Linked DNA regions of Homo sapiens: region 2 is reported to be linked to region 1. Evidence: microRNA targets listed by miRTarBase, many of them from high-throughput screens and not tested one by one. Region 1 holds a microRNA gene; the other region holds the end of a gene's coding sequence.

What was found. The annotated mature microRNA hsa-miR-6761-5p reads UCUGAGAGAGCUCGAUGGCAG and lies in region 1 at 1,612-1,632, opposite strand. An mRNA with a match to its seed (bases 2 to 7 or 8) in the 3' UTR can be bound and repressed. Matches are read on the target gene's strand: a 7mer-m8 pairs with bases 2 to 8, a 7mer-A1 pairs with bases 2 to 7 and ends in A, and an 8mer does both.
Region 2: miRTarBase lists IRAG1 as a target of hsa-miR-6761-5p. Seed matches in the 3' UTR shown: 7mer-A1 at 1,045-1,051.

The regions. Positions count from the first base shown.
Region 1 is chr12:111,796,395-111,801,470 of GRCh38, reverse strand. MIR6761 (microRNA 6761) reads right to left here and starts at 1,637; the gene lies at 1,566-1,637. It overlaps ALDH2 (aldehyde dehydrogenase 2 family member), which reads right to left. Exons shown (of 13, transcript NM_000690.4): 10 at 3,229-3,393; 11 at 1,408-1,565.
Region 2 is chr11:10,571,734-10,576,809 of GRCh38, reverse strand. It overlaps IRAG1 (inositol 1,4,5-triphosphate receptor associated 1), which reads left to right. Exons shown (of 21, transcript NM_130385.4): 21 at 235-3,715. The coding sequence ends at 478. All of the region lies in intron 1 of IRAG1-AS1 (IRAG1 antisense RNA 1), which reads right to left. Among named protein-coding and RNA genes, the nearest start is that of LYVE1, 5.6 kb to the right of the region's middle.

The sequences.
Region 1 (5,076 bases):
CACCTCGGCTTCCCAAAGTGCTGGGATTACAGGCATGAGCCACCGCACCCAGACAGTCTGGGTTCTTTCACTCAATGTTATGTTCAAGATTAATCCATGCTATTGCATGCATGGCTACTGATATGGCTTGGCTTTGTCCCCACCCAAATCTCATCTTGAATTGTAGCTCCCACAATTCCCACGTGTTGTGGGAGGTAATTGAATCATGGGGCCAGGTCTTTCCCATGCTATTCTTGTGACAGTGAGTAAGTCTCACAAGATCTGATGGTTTTATAAAGGGGAGTTTCCCTGCACAAGTTCTCTTCTCTTGTCTGCCACCACGTGAGACATGCTTTTCACCTTTCACCATGATTGTGAGGCCTCCCCAGCCACGTGGAACTGTGTGAGTCCATTAAACCTCTTTCCTTTATAAATTACCCGGTCTCTGCAATGTCTTTACCAGCAGTGTGAGAACAGACTCATACAGCTACTTCATTCCTTTCTGTGGCTGAGCCACATTTCATTGCATGGACAGATCACATTCTGTATCCATTCATCTACAGACGGACATTTGGGTTGTGTTCACCTTTTGGCTGTTACAAATAATGCTGCTGTGAAGATTCATATACACGTTTTTATGTGGGAGCACGTTTTTCTTTCTCTTGGATAAATACCTAGGAGTGGAATTGCTGGGTCATATGGGGGCTTCATGTTTAACTTTTTGAGGAGCTCCCAAATTATTTTCCACAATGAGTGTGCCATTTTCCATTCCCATCAGCAACATAGGAGGGTTCCGATTTCTCCACATCCTTACCAATACTTTAAAATATATATACATATAGCCCAGCCTGGGCAACATGGCGAGATCTCATCTCTACAAAAAATAAAAATGTTTTTTAATTGTCCAGGTGTGGTGGTACACACCTGTGGTCCCAGCTACTCAGGAGGCAGAGGTGGGAGGATTGCTTGAGCCCAGGAGTTCAAGGCTGCAGTGAGCTATAATCGCACCCCACAGCACTTCAGCCTGGGTAGAATATTTTTTTCTGTCTGAAAAAATAAAACTAAAAATAAATAAATAATAAAAATATAGCCATCCTAGTGGGGGCTAAGTGTGAAGCAGAGGCTAAGCTTTTAGGATCAGTGTCACAATCATGGGTCCCTCTGCTCTGGTCTCCTGCCCTGAGGCAGCTGGGGAGGAGCCCCACCACTCCGCTGCCTGCCAAGTTCAGGTGCAGGGCCTTTGCACCACAGAGAAGCTTGATCCTTCGGAGGTGAGGTAGCAGGACCTCTCAAATCGACATCACACCCTGACCCAGGAGAAACTGAGCCCAGCTCCCCAAATTCCAGGATGGTGACCACCAGATTCCAGTAGGCCCTGGCTTTGAGGAATCTCTGTTGGGTTGTGAGGGGCTGCTGGGAGGCTCTTACCACACAGTGCCCGCCTGGAGGGCCTGGGACAGGTAATTGGCCTTGTCCAAATCCTTTGTGAAGACAGCTGCGGCCAGCCCGTACGTGGAATTGTTGGCTCTCCCAACAACCTCCTCTATGGTCTTGAACTTCAGGATCTGCATCACTGGCCCGAAGATCTGGAGTGAGAGAGCAGCGTAGGAGGGTTCGGCAACACGGAGGCACCTGCCATCGAGCTCTCTCAGAGCAGAACAGATGATTCCAGATTGGGGGATAAGCCCCCAGCCATGCTCTAACAGTTCCAGGGGAAGACAACAGCCATCAAGCTCAGCAGAACACAGAGGGAATGGAGCTAACAGGGGCCAACTTCCTCCTGTGCGCCCCGGGCTTTACATACAGTATCCCATTTCTAAACAATCCTGCCAGGTATGTTATTCACACGTGACACGTAGATTTAGTGTCAAAGAATTTAAGTCAGCTGGGCATTGTGGCTCATGCCTGTAATCCCAGCACTTTGGGAGGCCAAGGTGGGAGAACTGCTTGAGTCTAGGAGTTCGAGTCCAGCCTGGCAAACACAGAGAGACCCTGTCTTTACTCAAAAAAAAAAAAAAAATTTTTGGCCAGGCACGATGGCTCACACCTGTAATCCCAGCATTTTGGGAGGCTGAGGCAGGTGGATCACCTGAGGTCAGGAGTTGGAGACAAGCCTGGCCAACATGGTGAAACCCCATCTCTACTGAAAATAAGAAAAATTAGCTGGGCGTGGTGGTGTGCGCCTGTAATCCCAGCTACTAGTAGGGTCTGAGGCAGGAGAATCGCTTGAACCCGGGAGGCAGAGGTTGCAGTGAGCTGAGATTGCACCACTGCACTCCAGCCTGGCGACAGAGTGAGACTCCATCTCAAAACGAGAAGAGAAAAAATAAGCCGGGCGTGGTGGCTCATGCCTGTAATCCCAGCACTTTGGGAGGCCGAGGCAGGCAGATCACGAAGTCAGGAGTTCGAGACTAGTCTGATCAACATGGTGAAACCCTGTCTTTACTAAAAATACAAAAATTAGCCAGGCGTGGCTAAAACTGGAGACAGAGTCCCGCTCTGTTGCCTAGGCTGGAGTGCAGTGGCGCGATCTCGGCTCACTGAAACCTCTGCCTCCCAGGTTCAAGCGATTCTCCTGCCTCAGCCTCCAGAGTAGCTGGGATTTCAAGCAAGCGCCACCACGCAGGGCTAATTTTTTCTTATTTTTAATACAGACAGGGTTTTGCCATGTTGGCCAGGCTGGTCTCGAACTCATGACCTCAGGTGATCCACCCACTTCGGCCTCCCAAAGTGTTGGGATTACAGGCGTGAGCAACTGCACCCAGCCTGTACTAAAAAATTTTTTTAAAATTAGCCAGGCATGGTGGTGAGCACCTGTAGTCCCAGCTACTCAGAAGGCTGAGGTGGGAGGATCATTTGAGCCCAAGAGTTCAAGGCTATAAGGAGCCATGATTATGCCACTGCACTCCAGCCTGGGCAACAGAGCAAGAATCTGACTGAAAGAAAAAAGGTCATGGGAAGGAGCAGACAATGTCATTCCTAGACTCCTGGCTCTGAGGGCCAGGACACCAAGGCCTGCAGGCCATGCTGAGGAATGCAGACGATCTCCCAGACAGAGGGTACAAGCTGAAGAGGAGGGACAAGATCAGATACATACTATGAATAGCGTGTTATGGGCACTGGTTCTGGGTATAACTTGAGATCTGGCCCCAAGCCAGCAGATGGGTGACAGCATCAGGATGCCAGGCTGAACTGTTTACCTCACCTCCCGCCAAGAATGTTTCCAGAGCACTGGCCCCAAGTGCTCACCTCCTCCTTGGCGATGGTCATGCCATCCTGCACATCTCCAAACACAGTGGGCTGGATGAAGTAACCACGGTCAGCAGCAATGCCCCCACCACACAGCAGCTTCGCCCCCTCTTGCTTCCCCGTGTTGATGTAGCCGAGGATCTTCTTAAACTGAGTTTCATCCACCTGTGGGAGAAGGAACCCAGAGTTATGGAGACATCGGATTCAGACCTCTCCTAGGCTTCAGGCTTAGAATTATGCAGGCAACAAGACAACTGGGAAATGGACCAAGGTCATAAGAAAGCAAGATCAGAAGAGGAAACACACAGGGCCAATAGCAGAAAACACAAAAAAGGCCCAACTTCCTCAGCCTACCGGAGAAAAGGACATCAAATCAATCTTTACTTTTCAACTATAAGATTACCAAAAAGTTTAGGAAGAAAATACACTGATAGCAAGAGACCGTTACATATACTGTTAGAAGGATGACAGACTGGTACAGCCTTTAGAGCAAGTGGTTTATTAATATTGCTCAAAAATTATATACTCAGATCCTTTGGCCCAGCTATTTAACTTCTAGGAATTTATTCTACATATGCACAAAGAGAAATGAACAAGGATATTCACTAGGGAGTATTTTTTTTTTTTTGTATTTTTGTTTTTGAGATGGGGTCTCACTCTGTCACCCAGGCTGGAGTGCAGTGGTGCGATCTCCACTCACTGTAACCTCTGCCTCTCATGCTCAAATGATCCTCCCACCTCAGCCTCCCGAGTAGCTGGGACTATAGGCATGCACCCCTACGCTGGGCTAATTTTTGTATTTTTAGTAGAGACAGGGTTTTGCCTTGTAGCCCAGGCTGGGGGAGCATTTTGTAAAGGCAAAAGATGGAAACAATTCTAAGTATAAATCAGTAGAGGGGTTGGTTAAAATTATTACGGTGCATCCAGTATATTGTCATCACTAATAGATCTGTGAACTAACTGACACAGAAAGATGGCCCAAGATACTCTGTAAAAAGAAGGAAAGCTTGGGCCAGGGGCAGTGGCTCACGCCTGTAATCTCGGCACTTTGGGAGGACGAGGCAGGCAGATCATGAGGTCAGGAGTTCAAGACTAGCCTGGCCAACATAGTGAAACCCCGTCTCTACTAAAAATACAAAAATTAGCTGGGCATGGTGGCACATGCTGAGGCAGGAGAATCGCTTGAACCAGGGAGGTGGAGATTGCAGTAAGCCAAGATCGCGCTATTGCACTCCAGCTCTGGCAACAGAGACTTCGTCTCAAAAAAAAAAAAAAAAAGAAGTAAAGCTTGTAGAACAATATGCACTTATATACTCCTTTATAGGGTAGGGGAGAAGGGCGACAGGGTCTCACTCTATTGCCCAGTCTGAAGAGCAGTGGCACAATCACGGCTCACTGCAACTTCAATCTCCCTGAGCTCAGGTATCTTCTCATCTCAGTCTCCCGAGTAGCTGGACCACAGGTGTGTGCCACCACACCTGGGTAATTTTTATATTTTTAGTAGGGATGGGGTTTTGCTATGTTGCCCAGGCTAGTATCTAACTCCTGGGCTCAAGTAATTGACTCACCTTGGCCTCCCTCCCAAGTGTTAGGACTACAGGGGTTAGCCACCACACCCAGCCTATTTTTTAAAAAATAAACATACAACAGCATAACTGTGTGTGCATGAGTGGTTACCAATGGAGAATAAAAGAAATGCAACAAAGTCTTATTTTTTACATTAAATACCTTTTTTTAAAAAGAGTCAGGGCCTCACTCTGCCACTCAGGCAGCAGTGCAGTGGTGTGATCACTGCTCACTGCAGCCTTGACCTCCTGGGCTCCCACCTCAGCCTCCCAAGTAGCTGAG
Region 2 (5,076 bases), not on the chromosome of region 1:
CAAAATCACCTGGGAAAATTTAGCCAATGATTCCTGGACCATAACTTTGGATATTCTCATTTAGTATGCTTGGGGTATTTTGAACAATTGCTGCCAACCCAATCTAGGCACAGCTAAGTTTGAGAACTATTGCTCAAGACAGCATGGAAGCTATCCGCAGAGAGAACTGTGGGTCTGTGTATCATATGTGTGCCCAGTATACTAAAGCCTCTGCATATTTTTTTTCATTGACAGCAAACTTGAAGAATTGGTCCATTTCTTACAAGTCATGTATCCCAAACTGTGTCAGCACTGGCAAGTGATCTGGATGATGGCTGCAGTGATGCTGGTCTTGACTGTTGTGCTGGGGCTCTACAATTCCTATAACTCTTGTGCAGAGCAGGCTGATGGGCCCCTTGGAAGATCCACTTGCTCGGCAGCCCAGAGGGACTCCTGGTGGAGCTCAGGACTCCAGCATGAGCAGCCTACAGAGCAGTAGGAAACCTCACACCTAGCCAGTGCCCTGCTCTGAGACACTCAGACTACCACCCTTTCCCCAAGTATAACGTCAGGCCCAAGTGTGGACACACTGCCGCCCATCCCATCAGGTCATGAGGAAGGGTTCTTTTAACACTCGGCACTTCTGTGGGAGCTATTCATACACAGTGACTTGATGTTCTTGGAGGATCAACAAAACTGCCCTGGGAAAGCATCCAGTGGATGAAGAAGTCACCTTCACCAAGGAACTCTATTGGAAGGGAAGGTCTCCTGCCCCTAGCTCAGGTGGCTGGGGAGAACTAAAACACCTTCACTGGTGGTTGGGGGTAAGGAGCGGGGCACGGGGGAGGAGGAGGTAGGGGGCAGTAAAAAACTTACTCTCTTTTTTCCTCTCTGTAATTGGTTATCAGGAAGAATTTGCTTAATGACTAACACCCTAAGCATCAGACCTGGAATTTGGAGTTGCAAAGTGACTATCTTCCCATTTCCCATCTCATTTTCAATAACTTCAGCCTCCCATTCTTTCCTTTGGAATGAGAGTTTCTTTTTACAGAAGTAGGAAAGGCTTCTCAGAAAAAAAAAAAAAAGTATAGGCTGAATTTAGCTCAGTGCTTGAAATGGGAAGATATGAATTATTATATACGCATCTGTCCACACATACACACATACTGTTGTGTACACACACACAACATGCCTGTGCACAGAGCCAACAACCCTTCAAAAGTGTGCTCTGGGTGTGTACCTCTGGATAAATAAGATGCATGCCAAGCCAACCCACAGATTTTCACCAGTGTGGGGCAGTCACCAGGCACCTGTTCAATGAGCTGTCCACATGGATTGAAGATGTTTTAAAAACACAGAAAACTCATGGCTTCAATGGCAGACTTACTAGTCTCCATTTCAAATGCCAACTCTGAGCTGCTGTACAGCACAATCTATTCCCTATTCTCTCTTTGAAAACAGTTAACCCACCTCACAGGTGAATGAGGAGAGAAGATGTGCTTTCTGCTTCAGTCTCTTACTCTGTGTGTGACCACATGCAAGAGTAAACTTGCACCTCAGTGCTTCAGTTCAAATGGGGTTTCCAACCCCAGTATAATTAGGGGTGTTTCAGAGCATCCCCAGTTATTTAGCACAACACTGAAGGAGCACATCCCCTCTCCATTTTGACTTCTCTCCCCACTTTTACAGCCACTGCCTTCATCAGTTTTGTAGAGGTTTGATTTCCATGTGGGTTTTGTTGTCATTGTTTTGCATTTTTGTTTTGTTATTGATATTGTTTGCTTTCATTGCTAAAACTCATATACGACTTACTATGAGCCAAGCACTGTTCTCAGTATTACATAGGTATGAATTCATTTAAGTCCTGAAGAAAAAGAAAAAAAAATACGAAGTGGATATTACCCTTCCCATTTTCAAATAAGGAAACTGAAGCACAAAAAGAACAAGTAACTTGACAAGGACACCCCGGTAGTAAATCATGGGGCTGGAGCTCAACCCCAGGGTAGGCTGGCTCCAGAGCTGTGCTCTCCTTGACTCTTCTGATGGTCTCCTAGCTGGAAGCCTCACATTTCAGTCTCATTCCCCCAAGTGGCCCATCAGCTACTCCATCTCTGGCTCCCCAACTAAACAGTTTCTCTCATAGTGCTGGACCTCCACTCACTAGTTTTTTTTCCAGCTGTTCTTCTCTTTTCTTCAGGTCACTCTTCTCGACCGAGTGCAAAAATTATCCCCTCCATACCAGCTTTGATGACCTTCCTTCCATACTCCTCACCAGACACAACATAATAGGTCACACACTCCTCTGTGCTTTCTGGCACGTTTTAAACATTATTATTATTGACCTTTACCTATAGTATACCATGGCCTATTTATGTATCCATCTCCCCTAGCATTTTTCCTCAAAGACAAGAACCATGTCTTACCCATCTCTTGGGTAAGTGCCTAGCATGGTGGCTGACGCTTGGGAGGGTGTCATTAAATGTTGCTCAAAAGAACAAGCAAACATTTAAGGTGGTGGAGAGCAGCCTGGGGACAGCTGACATGCTGCATGCTTCTCAGTACCAGCACCATCACAATGCAAAAAGCAACATCTTTCTTAACCTCAGCTTATTCTGTTTTTCAGTCTACTCTGTGAGAGAGCAGGAATGAGACCAGACTAGCAACACCATTGCCAAGCTCAAGGACTGGGCTCAATGCAGTCACTCCTTCAGAGAGACCCCCCACCCCAAGCATGCCCCACTTTAAAATAGCATGTTTATTGAAGGGGGCATCCTTTACAGTAGCTAGAAAATGACTGAGGCCCAAGCCAGGGTTGATCAAGGATGTGCCATTAAGGTAAAGAGTTACAGAGCAGGGCAGAGGGACTCTGGGGGCAGAAGTGGATGATTTGCCCGGCCTCTTCCAGGGGGTCTGGATACAACTGAAGGAGCTTTAGCTACATGAGGCCCTCAGAGCCAAAGACAGGATGCAAATAGAGTTCTAGAGAGTGGCCGTGGAAGCAGAACTCCAGGTGGGGAATGTTCAATCTCTGCCTCCCTTAAAGCAGGGCCAGGCTCAGCTGGCCCCATTGTTCACTTGGTCACAAGTTTCCTACCTTTGTTTCTGGATGAGTCAAAGGCCAGGAAGGCAGTTATGGAGAGCTCCTGCACCTCCAGCTGCCCCACAGAAAAGCCTGCAAGAGTACTTCCAGGCACAGGCCCTCTCCCACCCTATTCCATTTGTAAGCAAGGGAGGTCGAGGAAAAGGACATCTCCAAAAGGGAGCATAAGAATAGCCATATATACAGGGGCTGAAAAAGTGCTCATGAGTCCATCTTTTCTGGAAAGCAAAGACCAGCCTGAAGCAGTGGGAGCTGCTGCCCAAGCGGTAGTGAACTGGAGAGAAACAGGCCCTGGATTTTCAGTGAGGATGTGGATCTGAAGAGTCCCCCAAATGCCTCTGAAGTCTGACATCTCTGCTTAGCCCTAGGAGTCTGGTTCCCTGCCTTCAGTTGCAGAGTGATGTGTTTGTGTCATTGTTGATGTCACCTCCTAAAAAGACCTTCACTTTCTGGCTGCCACAAAGCCATATGTGTTGCTCCCCATATACAGCCTGACAGAGTAAATGGAGAGGAAGTGCTGGATTTGTGTATCACTGGCTATCAGTTCCTCATGTTGTTAAGCCTCACACAGGTGTGCTAGCATTGAACTGTAGAGTGTCACATACCTGAGTTTGAAAATAAAAGCACATTTCCAAACCTCTGGCAGCAGCCAAATGCCTCCTCATTTTATGGAGTTGAATTACAGTCTTACCCCAACCCAGAATTAGATGCCTTTGGATATATTAGTGCATTCCAGAACCAAGTCAGAGGTCCCCAACCCTTGGTCGTTATACTATGGGCTACCTCACAGGGGCTGGATCAGTTCCTCCTCTTCCCTTCCCCATTCCTGATCCTGGTTTCCTGTATCTTCCTGGTCTATGATTTTTTTAATTAACACAGTTTGCTGTGATTGAGTCTGCTGAGTTTTTAACCAACCTGATTTCCACAGCTGAACTATTTTTGTCTTTCTTACAGCTAGCTGCAGGGGAATGTGGACTTTCCAAATCTAGTTCCCTAAAAATAAACTCTCCTGCCCAATACTTCACACCTTTTTTTACTCCCTTCTCTGCCTACCAAAGCCAGAGGATTCAGATGAGAACACTGAGACCCGAGAAAATGGCAGAACCACTAGACGGAAGCTGGGTCTTTGAATGAGCACTCCCAGTATTGAACTGTGACATGAATAAGAAATAAGATTTTAGTATATTAAGCCACAGAGATTCCAGGATGTTTATAGCAGTTAGCCTACCCTAATGCATACATTTGAACCAGAAATTGTGTACTTTAATAGCAAAATTCCAAAATATGAGGTTCTAGCTTACCAGTTACATGGCAAGAAACAAAACTGCTAGAAAGATGGTAAGATAGTAAAGTCTTACCTGTGATAACTTGGAAAGCATCTCATGGTTAGCCTATTTATAAGTGGTGGAAAGAATCAGCGTTGGGGTATGGAAACTTCTCTTGGCTGCCTTTGGCAAGGTATGGCAGGAGAAATAATTGGCTATGTGGGAGCAAAAATGAAAAAGAATATAGAGTATTCAGAAATGTGAAAGATTGAAGGGTGAGAAAACCTGACCACTTCTAAATCCCAGACAGACTAAAAAGAGCTTTGAGTGGGAGCCAATAAAATTTCTCAGTTGAACAGATCGACTCAGCCTTATGGCAAAGGCTAGATTAAGGATGTGGCCCTTTGTGAGTTCAAATGAACTTAGTGTATTCACCACTAAATTTGAGGGGTATGGTGCTGAGAAACAGGAAATACTTCTTGAGAATTATGACTGGGAAAGGATTTGGGGTATGATTATTGGCACATGGAAGCAGAAATCTAACTTTGTGAGGGAATTTACAAAGAAACACAAGCCAGGACTAAAAACCCCTTTCATTGTTCAGGTGAGGAAACAGCTTTGAGGAGGAAAGAAAATATATCAGAGAGATACCTGCACCCTCATGTTTATTGCAGCAGTATTCACAATCGCCAAGATATGGTATTAAAATGTGTCCAGCAACAGATGAGTGGA